2 separate regions of the Homo sapiens genome follow, and region 1 is linked to region 2. The links come from fine-mapping of genetic effects on gene expression. Tissue or cell type: whole blood. Region 2 holds a variant in brackets; the other region holds the start of a gene. All regions are shown on one strand. Distances are between the middles of the regions.

What was found. PIP is the estimated chance that this variant, and not a neighbour inherited with it, causes the effect.
Region 1: LDAH starts here. The variant in region 2 is fine-mapped to the expression of LDAH in whole blood (INTERVAL, PIP above 0.99).

What each region holds. Positions count from the first base shown.
Region 1 is chr2:20,819,122-20,827,229 of GRCh38, forward strand. LDAH (lipid droplet associated hydrolase) reads right to left here and starts at 3,980. Exons shown (of 7, transcript NM_021925.4): 1 at 3,916-3,980. RefSeq lists enhancers at 2,856-3,681, 3,484-3,553, 3,774-4,163.
Region 2 is chr2:20,681,570-20,689,677 of GRCh38, forward strand. It overlaps LDAH (lipid droplet associated hydrolase), which reads right to left. Exons shown (of 7, transcript NM_021925.4): 7 at 2,462-5,525. The coding sequence ends at 5,334. Among named protein-coding and RNA genes, the nearest start is that of GDF7, 18 kb to the left of the region's middle. The variant G/C (reference allele first, on the strand shown) is at 3,257.

The sequences.
Region 1 (8,108 bases), 140 kb after region 2:
AACTTGCTGAATTATCTTTACTGGAAAAAGGCAATTTGTTTTGCACAACTCCTTTGCAACTGTGACATCAAACTTTCTTGTAATTACACACACAATTTTTTTTTAATGTACCAGAGAGTAGCTTTCAGCTTCTGGACATCAATTAATGCCAAGAATTTCACAAGTGTACAAACTACTTACCTATATTAAATACACTCATTAGAAATAATATATTAATTTCCCTTTGGTTGAGGTATACTTAAAGTGACTTCAGAATTAAGTGCTCAATCTTAAATACATTATGGTAATACTACAAGGGAGAAAATGCTGAAAGCAGAGCAACATTTTAACAAAGAAAAAAGTCCTCGCAAATCAATAAACGTAATCCAGCATATAAACAGAACCAAAGACAAAAACCACATGATTATCTCAATAGATGCAGAAAAGGCCTTTGACAAGATTCAACAGCTCTTCATGCTAAAAACTCTCAATAGATATTGATGGGACGTATCCCAAAATAATAAGAGCTATTTATGACAAACCCACAGCCAATATCATACTGAATGGGCAAAAACTGGAAGCATTCCCTTTGAAAACTGGCACAAGACAGGGATGCCCTCTCTCACCACTCCTATTCAACATAGTGTTGGAAGTTCTGGCCAGGGCAATTAGGCAGCAGAAAGAAATAAAGGGTATTCAATTAGGAAAAGAGGAAGTCAAATTGTCCCTGTTTGCAGATGACATGATTGTATATTCAGAAAACCCCATCGTCTCAGCCCAAAATCTCCTTAAGCTGATAAGCAACTTCAGCAAAGTCTCAAGATACAAAATCAATGTGCAAAAATCACAAGCATTCTTATACACCAATAACAGACAAACAGAGAGCCAAATCATGAGTGAACTCCCATTCACAATTGCTTCAAAGAGAACAAAATACCTAGGAATCCAACTTACAAGGGATGTGAAGGACCTCTTCAAGGAGAACTACAAACCACTGCTCAATGAAATAAAAGAGGACACAAACAAATGGAAGAACATTCCATGCTCATGGATAGGAAGAATCAATATTGTGAAAATGGCCATACTGCCCAAGGTAATTTATAGATTCAATGCCATCCCCATCAAGCTACCAATGACTTTCTTCATGGAATTGGAAAAAACTACTTTAAAGTTCATATGGAACCAAAAAAGAGCCTGCATTGCCAAGTCAGTCCTAAGCAAAAAGAACAAAGCTGGAGGCATCACGCTACCTGACTTCAAACTATACTACAAGGCTACAGTAACCAAAACAGCATGGTACTGGTACCAAAACAGAGATATAGATCAATGGAACAGAACAGAGCCCTCAGAAATAATACCACACATCTACAACTATCTGATCTTTGACAAACCTGACAAAAACAAGAAATGGGGAAAGGATTCCCTACTTAACAAATGGTGCTGGGAAAACTGGCTAGCCATATGTAGAAAGCTGAAACTGGATCCCTTCCTTACACCTTATACAAAAATTAATTCAAGATGGATTAAAGACTTAAATGTTAGACCTAAAACCATAAAAACCCTAGAAGAAAACCTAGGCAATACCATTCAGGACATAGGCATGGGCAAGGACTTCATGTCTAAAACACCAAAAGCAATGGCAACAAAAGCCAAAATTGACAAATGGGATCTAATTTAACTAAAGAGCTTCTGCACAGCAAAAGAAACTACCATCAGAGTGAACAGGCAACCTACAGAATGGGAGAAAATTTTTGCAACCTACTCATCTGACAAAGGGCTAATATCCAGAATCTACAAAGAACTCAAACAAATTTACAAGAAAAAAACAAACAACCCCATCAAAAAGTGGGTGAAGGATATGAACAGACACTTCTCAAAAGAAGACATTTATGCAGACAAAAAACACATGAAAAAATGCTCATCATCACTGGCCATCAGAGAAATGCAAATCAAAACTACAATGAGACATCTTCTCACAGCAGTTAGAATGGTGATCATTAAAAAGTCAGGAAACAACAGGTGCTGGAGAAGATGTGGAGAAACAGGAACACTTTTACACTGTTGGTGGGACTGTAAACTAGCTCAACCATTGTGGAAGTCAGTGTGGCGATTCCTCAGGGATCTAGAACTAGAAATACCATTTGACCCAGCCATCCCATTACTGGGTATATACCCAAAGGAATATAAATCATGCTGCTATAAAGACACATGCACATGTATGTTTATTGCAGCACTACTTACAATAGCAAAGACTTGGAACCAACCCAAACGTCCAACAATGATAGACTGGATTAAGAAAATGTGGCACATATACACCATGGGATACTATGCAGCCATAAAAAAGAATGAGTTCATGTCCTTTGTAGGGACATGGATGAAGCTGGAAACCATCATTCTCAGCAAACTATCGCAAGGACAAAAAACCAAACACCACATGTTCTCACTCATAGGTGGGAATTGAACAATGAGAACACTTGGACACAGGAAGGGGGAGATCACACACCGGGGCCTGTTGTGGGGTGGGGTGAGTGGGGAGGGATAGCATTAGGAGATATACCTAATGTAAATGACAAGTTAATGGGTGCAGCACACCAACATGGCACATGTATACATATGTAACAAACCTGCACGTTGTGCATATGTACCCTAGAACTTAAAGTATAATTTTAAAAAAATTAAAAAAAAGAAAGAAAAAATCCTCCAGTCTGAAGGCATTAAGTTATCAAAAAGCAAAATATTAAAATATAAAATTTTAGATGGGCACCCACTGTGTTGCCCTGATTATCCCCCTAGAATGCTACATGCTGGAAAGAGGGGCCTTAGCAGGTTTCTAAGTCTTTAACCTTCAGGTGGAAAAATGGGGAAACACACAAGAGACACTCCTACGTATAGTTTCAGAAAGAAGTTTAATTAAAAAACAGCTTTTGAGAATAAACATTCTGGAGATGCTTCTAAATCTTCTGGGTTTCTTTTGGTTGTATCTCTTTCTCCATACAGATTTGTTCTTTCAACTCAAGGACTATCAACTCTTTTTTTTTTTTTGAGACTGAGTCTCACTTTGTCGCCCAGGCTAGAGTGCAGTGGCGCCATCTCGGCTCACTGCAAGCTCCACCTCCCGGGTTCACGCCATTCTCCTGCTTCAGTCTCCCGAGTAGCTGGGACTACAGGCGCCCGCCACCACGCCCGGCTAATTTATTTATTTATGTATTTATTTTTGTATTTTTAGTAAAGATGGGGTTTCACCGTGTTAGCCAGGATGGTCTCGATCTCCTGACCTCCTGATCCGCCCGCCTCGGGGTCCCAAAGTGCTGGGATTACAGGCGTGAGCCACGGCGCCCGGCCAGGACTATCAACTCTTGTGTTTGGTACACAGGACACAAAGCAGGTGTCCGGTAACTACTTGCGAGGGAAGATACGAATTAACCAAGGAATAAAGTGTTCCAATCTGCATTCTGTCTTGCGTGGGGAACAAAACCAAACTAAGACCCAAGGATGAGGGTTTACGGTTAAGGTCTTCAGCGTGAATAAAAGGCGGCGTGAGCACTAAACGCCGGGGGCAAAGAACACTCCCGGCCCAGAGTTTGACCCCTCCTAGCGAGTTCTTCCCGGCCAGCTGCCCAACTTTTTGGCCTCTACTCCTCCGCGGGGGCACCATAAGACTCCCTACAGGTGGGCTACACTTAGGGGTTCAAATGCTGCATTACCGCGCTCGGGTGAGCGACTGCCCGGCCTGCAACTCAAGGGACTCCCAGGCCAAGTGGCTCCGAACTCGCGAGCTGTCGGAACAGTATTATTTTTGCTGCTACGGGCCATCTGGCCCAGGGCAACAGGGGCTCTGCGAGGAACCATAGAGAAGAAGGGGCGCCAGATCCCGCGTGCCTGCCCACCCGTCCTTCCTTTGGGCAGTCACCCTGAGCTCGGCAAGCTGTACCTCACCTGTCCACCTGGAAGGCTGCCCGCTCTCCCTGAGGGTCCTGGGAAGGCGGCACGAGACCGGAAGTGCCCCCCTCAGGTGACGTCACAGTACCGCGCCGGAGCTGATCCGGGAAGCCGATGTCAGCCTGGCGCGCGGCGCACAGCTGGCTGGGAGATTTCTTACTGGCTTGGAGCCGGTGGTCCAGATCAGAGAGACCTCTTGGAGGGTGTCGGGGTTTTCCTTTCTTTTTCATTTGAATTTTATCCGCCTTTTATTTTCTGTCATCCTTGATGTGCTTCTGGCTTCTGGCTTCCCTTTCCTTCTCTCTCATTTGTTCCATGTCTGCCCCTCTTTTCTCCCTCTTCCCATTTCCCTCTTTCTGCGTTACTAGTTGCATATCTTCCCCACATACACAGGAAAGTTGATTCTCATTTGATCATGTTCATAAGCATGATCAATAAAGTATTTTTTTAATTAAGGTGTTGCCAACTTTAAGAAAATTCAGAGAATAATATTAAGTATAGAGTTTATTTGGGCTCAGTGCTTGAGAATGGCCACTCAGGAGCTTAGATTCAAGTTGCCTTGAATATACACTCCAATTAGCAGCAGTCGGAGTAGGTTTTTTTTTTTTTTTTTTTTTTTTTTTGAGACGGAGTCTTGCTCTGTCGCCCAGGCCGGACTGCGGACCGCAGTGGCGCAATCTCGGCTCACTGAAAGCTCCGCTTCCCGGGTTCACGCCATTCTCCTGCCTCAGCCTCCCGAGTAGCTGGGACTACAGGCGCCCGCCACCGCGCCCGGCTAATTTTTTGTATTTTTAGTAGAGACGGGGTTTCACCTTGTTAGCCAGGATGGTCTCGATCTCCTGACCTCATGATCCACCCGCCTCGGCCTCCCAAAGTGCTGGGATTACAGGCGTGAGCCGGTTTTTAAGGAAAGGAGAGGAGGCAGAGCTTAACTTGTTTACCAAGAATTTATATTTAAAAAACTTAAGCTATTGACTGGCTATGCTTTCTTCCTTGTATCACAAATTCCAGGAACATAAAGATAATGGGTGAGGCAGCTAATAAAGAACAAAATGCCTTTAACAATTGCCCTAAGGCATGGGAAGGCGTGGCGGAAGCCAGTATTCACTTCTGTCCGGGTCTAATAAATTTTGCATACCTCACATAGCTCAGACAGCTCTGGGCTATTTTTCTTTTCTTAGTATGTACTTTTTTTAGACATAATACTGTTGTACACAATAATCTACAGTACAGTGTAAATATAAATTTTATATGCACTGGGAAACCAAAAAAATTCTGTGAACTGCCTTATTGTGATGTTTGCTTTATTGTGGTAGTATGGAACTGAACCCCCAATATCTTCAAAGTATGCTTGGATTTAAAAAAGAGGTTTACTTAGCTCATGGTTCTGCACATTGGAAAGCTCAAGGGGCATAGTGTGAGCATCTGCTCAGTTCTGGTTAGAGTTTTTTGTGCAGTGTCACAACATGGTAGAAGGTCAAAGGGGAAGCTGATACATGTGAAAACAGACCAAACAGGAGGTGGAAAACAACCCACTCTCTCAGGGACTCTCTCTTTTCCAATCTCTCAAGAGCTGTTATCAAACCAAACTGGAGTCCAATTGCCTGTGCAGCAAGACCAAACACTGACATCAGGATTATAGTGAAAGAAAGTGAGGCATTTATTGTAGGGTCCCAAGCAAGGAGAACTGGTCAGTTAGTGCTTAAGTCTTGAACTCCCTAATTGTTTATAGGTAAGGGTTTTTAAATGCAGGGGTGTCAGAGGTTATAGGCAAAGTCATAAATCAATATATGGAGGTTATATATTGGCTTAACCTAAAAATGCAGTGAGGTAGGATGCAGGAATTGGACACCAGACCAAATTGAGGACTAGCTAAAACAGGGGCAGGGAGGAAGCAGCTTTCCATATTAATGCCCCTTTCCATGGCAACAACCTGACAACCCAGAGGTTACCACCCTTTTCCTAGAAATTTCTGCATAATTCACCCCTTAATTTGCCTGTAATTAAAAATGATTATAAATATGACAGAAGAACTGCCTTTCAGATGCTACTCTGGACACACTGCCTATGGGGTAGCCCTGCTCTGCAAGGAGCAGTATCTCTGCTGCTTCTGGACACTACTACTTCAGTAAAAGTTGCTATTTAACACCACCGGCTCACCCTTGAATTCTTTCTTGGCGAAGCTAAGAACTCTACTGGGCAAATCCCCAATTTGGGGCTTGCCTGCCGTGCATTGGCGGGGCATCTCAAAGAGGGGGGCCCACAGGTCATAGGTGGAATTTAAGGATTTTCTGATTTGTGATTTGTTAAGAAGGTGAAACTCTCTAAAAATTTGATATCAGCAGAAAAGGATATTAGCTTGGGCTCATGGGCATGGCCTCCTTTAAGCACCTCAAGAAGAAATTTAGAACAAAGAATAGTAGTCAGAGTTTAGCCTTCAATTCTCCCTTATTTGAGGCCTGTGTGCCAGTGGATCCATTTAGTGGGGATCTGGGTTTCTGAAAAACAACTTGGGACATATGTTAAGATGTTACCTTTAGTTTTTATAGGAAATACAATATCCCGTGACATTAATTTTTTGGCTATTGTTTTAAGCTCTTATTATCTTCTTGCTTTTAAGTTTGTTTTGTTTTTGTTTTTGTTTTTAGGACTAGCTAGATGTCTGGAATTTTCTTTAAGGAAGTCAAGATTTTTTTTTATTTTCATCTTTTGGTGGAGAGTGCCCTGCAAGCCCTTAAGAGGGGTCTCTGCTGTGTCTCAGAACAAGAACTGACTTTGGCGAGAACAGCAACAATCTCTTCATGAGGGATCCACCCCATGACCCCAACACCTCCCCATAGGCCCCACTTCTGAACATCACCACACTGGGGACCAAATTTCAGCATGAGTCTTTTTGGGGACAAACTATATCCAAACCATAGCAACACATATTGTGATAAGAAATAAACCTTTGTTGCTTAAGGCTTTGGAGGTTGTTGCTGTTGTTTCTTACCACAGTGCCACACAGCCTGTCCAGATTGATGCAGAGGGACAGCCACACAGAGATTCTTTTTTCTCCCTCTTTCGATTTTAATTCCTAATACCCGGGGAAGAATTTCTGATTGGCTCAGCTCAGGTCTTGTCCTAGTCCATTTTCTGTTGCTTATAGTAGAATACCAGAAACTGGCTAATTTGTAAAGAAAAAATTATTTCTTACAGTTATGGAGGCTGAGAAGTCCCAGGTCGAGGGGCTATACCTGGTGAAAGACTCTCTGAAGAGTCTTAAGGCAGCACAGGGCCTCACTTGTCCAGGAGGCTGAGTGTGCTAGCTCAGGTTTCTCTTTCTTTTCTTGGAAAGCCACCAGTTCCCCTCACATGATACCCCTTAATCTAATTCATTAACCTATTGATCCATTAATCTATGAAGGAATTAATCTATCCATGAGGGCCGAGCCCTCCTGATTCAATCACCCCATAAAGGTCCCATCTTTTAATACTCCCCTTTGGGGATTAAATTTTAACATGAGCTCATAAATATATACACTTACTATGTACCCACAAAAATAAAAAACAAAACACATTATTTAAAATGAAATAAATTTCAACATGAATGCTATGGTTTGGATATGGTTTGTTTTGGCCCCCACCAAGTCTCAGATTGAAATGTGGTCCCCAGTATTGGAGATGGGGCCTGGTGGGTAGTGTCTGGGTTGTGGGTTGTGGGTATGGATCCCTCATAATGGCTTGGTGCCATGCTCGCAAGAGTGAATGAGTTCTTGCTCTGTTGCTTCCAATGAGAGCTGGTTGCTAAAAGAGCTGGCACCCCCTCCCTTCTCTCTCTTGCTTTCTATTGCTGTGCAGTTTCTACATACCAGTTCTCCTTCATTTTCCACCATAAATAGAAGCAGCCTGAGGTCTTCACCAGAGGCAGATGCCAGCACCGTGCTTCTGGTACAGCCTACAGAGGTATGAGCCAAACAAACCTCTTTTCTTTATAAATTACATAACCTCAGGTATTCCTATAAAGCAACACAAACAGACTACAACAATGAGTTTTGGAGGGGACAAATATTCAAACCCAGTACCAATTTTCTGTCTTAGCCCATTTACTGTTGCTTATAACAGAATACCTAAAACTGGGTAATTTATACATTTTATTTTATTTAATTTCATTTTCATTTTTCACTGTAACCTTGAACTTCTGGGCTCAA
Region 2 (8,108 bases):
AGTGTCCATGTCTGCACTCCCACTGATGTGTCAGTTTTAAGATGAAGAAGCCCAGAGATGTGATTTCCTGGTAGTCCGACCCAATGTGAGAATTGCACTTTTTCACAGCTTGCCTATTAGGTATGGTAGAAACTTTTTATTAATTTAGATAACAAAATTTATAGACTACCCTGTGTAGCAGGCCATATTTGATATGCCCTGACAGCACAGAGATGACTAAGACAGAAGGTCATCTTCTAGGACTCTCCTGAGAGAAGGGGTGTTGGTGGAGGCAGGGAGGAGCAGACTGCAGAGACACAATCCCGCAGCAATGATAAGTCATTCAGTAGACACAGGCCAGGCCAGGGGTCATGAAGACTGGCAGGGCATGGAAGGGTGGGAAGGACCGCTCTGGGAGGCAGGAGCAGTTGGTATTTTAGGCCACGTCTCATGGGGTGGGGTAGAGGATGGGCGTAATCAAAGCTGGAGCAGTGATTCCTGTACAGAGGAGTCCACAGGAAGCTCCCGTGCGTGGCATAAGACCAGGTGGCTATGGAAGAGTTGCAGAGGTGCCGGCCATGTGGCTGCAGCCACAGCACTGACTCCCAGCATGTGGGCTTGCTTTCTCTCAATCCACTGCCTGATGCATATTTTTGCCGTCTGAAAACTGGTCTCTGTTATAGCTTTCATTCTTTTAAAACTACTCATTTGTTACCAACGATCTACTCGTCACTTCTTCTGTCAATCGGGTCCTCATTTGCCCTTTGCGTGACTCTCTTTCCCGGCTCTCCACTTTTGCTAGGCTTGCCCACTGTGGCCTCCAGGAGGCAGCATGATGCAGTGGAAAAAGGGGATGAAGTGGTGGCTCTGGAGTAGAGGCCTGAATTGGAATCTGGCTTAGTTCATTTTCTGTTGCTATAATGGAATATCAGAGACTGGGTAATTTATAAAGAAGAGATTTATTTCTTACAGTTCTGGAGGCTGGAAAGTCCAAGATTGAGGGGCTGGCATCTGGTGAGGACCTTTGTGCTACATCCTCCCTGGCAAAAGGTGGAAGGGCAAGAGAGCATGAGAGAACAAGAGATCAAACTTGCAGCCTAATATTGTGGCTTTTTATCACTGGCATTAATCCATTCAGGAAGGAAGGGCCCTCATGACTCAGACACTTCCTGTTAGGACCCACCTCCCAATAGTTGCATTGGGGATTAAGTCTCTAACACACGAACTTTGGAGGACATGTGCAACTACAGGAGAACCCCAGCTCTGTCATCTATTAACTGTGAGGTCCTTAGCAAGGCACCTCAGTGGTAATCTGTATAATGGGCATAGTCAGAACATCACAGGATTGGGAGGCCTAAGTGAGACACTGTGAAGGTGCTGGGGTGAGCAGCATACTCCTTATCTGGATTAGCTCTCATCTATTCCAAACCACCTATCCAAGTTCTACCTGCCCTTCTAGGACTAGGGGCAACCTCATCCTCTTCTCTCTTCCAAGAGCTTTGTCTTTATAGAACCCTTTATAGAACCATAGAACCACCCAGAGCTTTCTTTGACCCTCGTTCGTGCTCTGAGGATGCTCACCCAGCATCACACTCAGTGACGCCGGTCTTGCTCTAGAGATGCCTTCAGCCTGGTGGGAGAGGCCAGACCCATGTCCCACAGACACTCCTCACCTGGGCCAATGTGATCACTTACCCATGTCTGTATGGGGCACAGGCAGGAATCTCAATCCTCTTAAAAAGTGATTAGAAGAACACTCATATGAGCTTTGCTGTCCTCAGCACTCCTGCAGAAGAGCTTCATTCAAGGTCCCACAGATGTATTTGTTCACAGAGCACACTCAGTCCCAGCCTCCAACCTCTCCTTAAGGCCCACCCCTAAGGGAAGGAGCAGCCCAAATATATCCTTGCCTCTTCTCTTCTGCAAGAGAAGGCCAGGGATGAAGATGTCTCAAGCCATCTAAGAAATGCTTTGCTTCCCGCATCTTTTCTAAATCGACTGTTAGAACATCCTGGGCTGTGTGCAGGGAGGCCTGAATGGGCTGAGGCCAGAAAGCTGAGCCAGGTGAGCAAGTGTTATCCCTGCGTAAGAGCCAAAATGCTGACTGCTAGAATCAAGTTACAAGCCTGGTGAAACAGTGCAGGGACTGAGATACCACAGGGTCCTCTGCTACACTAAAGAGAAGAGAAATGAAAGGAAAAAAGGAAAAACAAGTTTGCTATCCTCCTTTAGGTACCATTTTATAGAGAATCCACCATATGCCAGGCAACATACTAAATGCTATATGCATGACCTCATTTTATCTCCATTAAAAAAAAAATGAGGAGCTGGGGGACTCAGGGAGGTGAAGTGAAGTCTTATGTCACAAACCTAACAAATGACAGATCTGGGATTTGAACCCAGGTCTTCATTTACTGCGTACAAGAGGAAATAGCCTTTTTGGAAAAGAAGCAATGAGACACGGATGCAGGAGATAGCATGGTGGGGTTTTAAAAATAATTATTTTTACAAATTCTAAAACATCTCAAACTTCCAAAAAATCTGCAAGTACAAAGAACATTATTTTCCCCTCAACCATCTGACAGTAAACAGACATGATGCCCCTCACCCCCAGATACCTCAGTGTCTCCAGTACAAACAAGGACACTCTCTTACTTCTTCCCAGTACAACCACTGAAATCAGAAAATTAACAGTGGCATCTTACTCCCAGCTAATCTTCAGACCTCATTCAAGTTGTGCAAATTGTCTCAACAATGTCTTTTATAACAAAAACATCCAATTCAGAATCAGATGTTGTGTCCAATTGTCATGTCTCTTCAGTCTCCTTTAATCTGAAATTGCTTTTTTTTTTTGCTCTTTTTTAAAAATTATTTTAGACACGAGGTCTCGTTTTTTGCACGGGCTGGTCTCAAACTCCTAGCCTCAAACGATCTTCCCAGCTCATCCTCCCAAGGTGCTGGGATCACAGGTGTGAGCTACGGCACCCAGCCTGTTTGTTTTGAATATAATGTAGGATGAAGAAAAATCAAGCCTTTGGTGGTCCGTGTCTCTCCAAAGGTTGAGTGGAGAAGCGTATGGTGAGAGGCCCTTGGTGGCCATGGACATCAGGCCACACAAGCCACAGAGGGCTTGTGGAGATGCTTATGGCTGGGAACAGACTAGGAACAAACACGGGTGTGGTCAAAGCTCAATCGCTGAGCACTCGGTAACTCTGCAGGAAGTTAAAACTTTCACAAAGACCATCCATGTGGTTGACTGGGACATACAGGCAGAGCT[G/C]CTTCTGGAAAATGGATTTCTTCCACTGTTTGTCCATTTTAGTCTAATCCCTAATGAAACAGAATGAACTTCAGTCTCTTGAAATCTGATTCTTCCACCTATGAAAAAAGCAATGAGAAAGGTGGCTTTTCACTTTAAAAGAGAGACTTTGAGCCGAGTCTAACTCAGGAGAACTGCTCAAATTGTACCCTCTCTTGCCCAACACAGAGATCAGGCCAGACCAGGTCAGAAATGCTGGTAAAACATTTATTTCAAAAATTCATTTGGTTTTCAGATGATAAATAGGAATTAAGAATGAGTATCTTTCTTAGGCTCTAAAAACCAGAAATAAGACACAATTTCATACGTGCAGACTTTTGAAATATGGAGTAACATTTAAAATAACAGATAAAAGAAAAGCTCTGAATGTTACTCTTTATTCTGGTAGGTATGATTTACCCAGTATTGTTTACATGCCTTGATTTAGTATCAGTGAGTATCTCCTGTATGCAAGGCGCTCAGAGCCATGATTCCTAGCTTCTAACATCCGATTTCTAGGCCTCTCATGCAGATGCCAATAAAGGATCTGTGTACAGCCCTGTGCTTACGGCCTATGTATCTATTAGCTCTTCCCCTTGGGCTAACAGCACTCCTTGTCTGGAGCTTGGCTTTTCCCCTCTGAGAAGTCACTTGCTGTGATGTAGAAGCTATGCCAAAGCACAGTAACTCATTCAGCACTTACCAATAAGTTGGCAGCAAATCAGAGCCAAATCTTTCATCAGGGGGCTTTAGGATTTGAGCGGAGGGACATCTCATTGTCCTTAGGGAATGATAATGCCATGAGGGATTTCCTCTAGGAGAAAAAGGAATATTTCTGATCCATGATCAACTGTCACTGCAGTATGTGGTTCTCAAGATTGAGTCAATTTAGGGGAGGCAGCAATATTGTCAGCCCACTCTAGGCCAGGGAATATGTGTCTTCTCTGCCATACCTCAATGTGTCTAGAGAAGGTGAATTCACATAACTTAATGGCTGGGTTTGGTTCATTAACAAAATAATTTCTTTCCAGCAAATGAAGTTAATGCAGAAATGGAGAGTTAATGTATGGCAATGTTTTACTGAGCAGTTTAAAAGAAGCTTTTAAAAATTATTCACTAGAAGATTTCCAGAAGAAAAGAATCATTAAGTAGCTAAGAACTCCATCCTCAATGGCTAGCACACTATTTGGCTCATTGATGGTCTTTAATGGAGTTTTAGTGCAAGAATTACAGAAGGAGCAACTGTACGTTGGCACATCCAAGCCTGCTTTGGGACAGCCCAGTGCCTCTCCATCCTGGCTCTGGAGAGGAGGAGCCTGCAGGGAGCTTATAACCTGGGAGGCTAAGGCTCAGCATAGAACTTGCTGGTTGTCCTGTGGCAGGAGGCACAGTTGGGGTCCTTCAACAATTCTTTATCTGGTTAGCTGACCAGAGTAATGTCTGGTGAACTTTATTCTCTGTCTAGTGCAGGTACATTAGACGTCACATTGATGATCTCAGCCAAGATCTGTGCTAAGTTAGCCTGGGCTCATCTTCATCTTCTGTCTTACAGGAGACCCAGGTTCACTTCCTGCTCCTGGAACATGAGTGTATCCTTGTCATAATCTCATACACTTCACATATCTAACTATACTCTTAACATTCACTGATTTATTTTACATTTTCTAGTAGGTATTTCATAATTTCCTCCAGAGGAGCCTATTCTACAATGTAACTCAATTAAAATCAAGTACATGTAGATTTTTTTTTCATCTGCAAAGATCCTGCCTACCAAAATAAACCATATGGTGCCACTGGGCATCTTGTGCAAACACAAGACTCTGTGTAGATCACTGTGTTCCCTGAGTCTTGGAAAATGTATGGTTAAACCTATGGAATGATTCATCAACTGTGTTTACTTCAGCCTATAACATGGCGAGCGGAGAGTTGGTTTGTAAGACAAAGGTTCTCACTTTCTTCATTTCTAATATCAGTCTTCAAAATTAAACATTTACCTACTAAGTCTAGTACACTGACTGCCTCCATGTACTGGCAGTGGGGGCTTGTTCCTCAGGCCAATTTACATTTTGGACAAGTCATCCTTTAGGGAGTCAGCAATCATGTCTGCCATTTCCTGGTTAAAATGGGTGATGAAAGCATGAGGTATGTTTTTCTCACAGAGTCGAATGTCTCCTTCTGGAAAATCCTTCTTAATGTCTTCATAGTACTCTTTTGGACACCAAGGATCTATAGTACCATAATAAAATGTAAGCTGAAAGACAAGACAAAAACCTTTTATTAGAAAACACGTTCCCTTCCTGACACAGATATGACACCAGCAGCCGGCAGTGCTCTGAGGACAGCACCTACGCCTGACCCTGGGAGCTAGTCCCTAAGCTCTCTCCAGAGTGTGGCTCTCTCAAGGCAGCAAGGCTTCACGATGTACAGGAGTGCACTTAGAAGAATTTGGTGGGAAGATCCCCATGCTGGGAGACTCTTGTGTGATAGATCACTCATAATTCACTGAAACGACTTACCAGGAAAGTTTTGTGTACTAAGGTTGGGATGGACACTGGAATGAAGGCCGGTGAGGATGACGAAGACAGTTATTGAGACATAGTCACTGAATGACTAGTGACCAGTTAATAAACTTAGTTGTTTCCAAATAGCCACATGGTAGTCATATGGGATGTATTTGTTGAATGAATACAAACACAGATCAGATAGACTCAGGCTTTCCAATGTAGCTGATGAAATGTGATCAGAATCCTGAGAGAGTTTATGACCTTTCTAAGAAAAGGCTCTATGCAGCCTGTATGTTGATTCAGTGGGGAAGTGCAATAATCATACTTCAATTGACAGCAAGCAGCTGAATGGAGACAGAGCCTCCTCTGTGGCATTACTAAGACCCTGAATGGATATCTACCTAAACCTGCATGTGATATATATGTATATTGCTCTAGGCTGCTGTGTTTCACTGAAAAACTGCTATGTTCTAGTTCTGTTAGTTCTAAAAATAAAGGCAACAAAGCAACATCTTATATTCAGAAGAACAGATAGTGGCAATTTCTACAAAAACCAAGAACTAAATCTTAAGGATCCTTTGACCTCTGTTATCACTGAAAGACAGAGCTATGCCTAGCTCCAGCCCCTAGTTGGCCAGCTGTAGTCACTTGCAGCTTCCCTAATATACCAAATGTGCTCCTTCATTCAGACACTGAATTGCTTACTCATTCCTTTGTTCATCAAATACAAATGGAGCACCTACTTTGTATTAGGAACCTGGAAAATAGAGATAAGACAGTCTTGGGGGGAGGGGAGAAGGGGACCCCATGTATACAAGACAATTTGAGAGCTCAGGTGAGGTGCAGCTGGTCAGAAGTAGTAGGCAGGAAAGATTCCCCAGAGTTGATGCCTCAGTTGAGTCTTCAAGCTGGGGCAGCACACTGTGGGGAGAAGACCAAGCAAACCAAAGCTTGAAAGAGCATGGCATGTGTGGGGAACTGGAATTCCACATGGCTGGAATATAGGGTGGTGGGAGATAAGACTGGAGAGGCAGAGAGGGATGAGGTCATGGACAGCATCTTCTATGCATGCCAAGGAGGTTGCGCTTTATCCCGAAGTCCACAAGGCAAAAAAGACTGCACAGTGAAGTGACATGCTGAGGTCCCTATGTCAGGAAAACCACTCTGGCCACAACGAGAAGAAGGATTGGAGGTGATCAAGTGCTGGGGGAGGAGAGTGCAGGGAAGCAGGCGTTATTGCTCACTGGATAGTTTGAGTGTATCAATTATTAAATCCATGACCTGAATATGGGACAGATGAGACTGATCTTACGAAAACAATGGCCTTCATTACAATAACATGATGCCTTAACCAATATTTAGATGGTTAGTTAAAAACACTTTATAGAGGAAAAAATTTAACATAGTACTCCAGAGAGTAAATTATGAACAAGTAAACCTCAAGTGGCAGACTTACTCTGAATTGCTTCATGGAGGTTTCCTTTTTTTTTTTTTTTTTTTTTTTTTAATTATACTTCAAATTCTGGGACATGTGCAGAGTGTGCAGGTTTGTTACATAGGTATACACGTGCCACGGTGGTTTGCTGTACCCATCAACCCGTCATCTACATTAGGTATTTCTCCTAATGCTATCCCTCCCCTACCCCCCATCCCCTAACAGGCCCCGGTGTGTGATGTTCCCCTCCCTGTGTCCATGTGTTCTCATTGTTCAACTCCCACTTATGAGTGAGAACATGCCATGTCTGGTTTTCTGTTCCTGTGTCAGTTTGCTGAGAATGATGGTTTCCAGCTTCATCCATGTCCCTGCAAAGGACATGAACTCATCCTTTTTTATGACTGCATAGTATTCCAGCTTCATGGAGGTTTTCTTGGTTGTTACCTGGGGTTCCAGTTTTGCACGCTGCAGAGGACCTGCAACTTACAGATTTATCACTTAATTCATTCTTTGCATTCTCCTACTTTTCCTCACTCCAACCATTTCTGGGCATTCCAAAGCCCCTAAAGCCAGAATTCATTTTGCCATGGTTCTTAGCAGAGTAAGAACTTCTTTTGCTTCCTAGAGAATATGAGAGCCTAGCAGTTGCCTAGTTCTTCCTCCTGGTCTCAGCTCTTTCTGTAGCTCTAAAATGCTGCAACCTCACAACCAGTGGGAGACTATTCTTTCCACTAGTAGAAAAACACGTTTCCCCGGATCTCTCAGCAACTACCCTGCTATAGCTTTGCCTTGAAATACTGTCAAGAGTACAAACTATTTGCAGGTATTAATTATCTACCAATAGTGCTGATAACATTAGGCTCTCTCTAAGCTACTCCCTATATTTACCACCAGC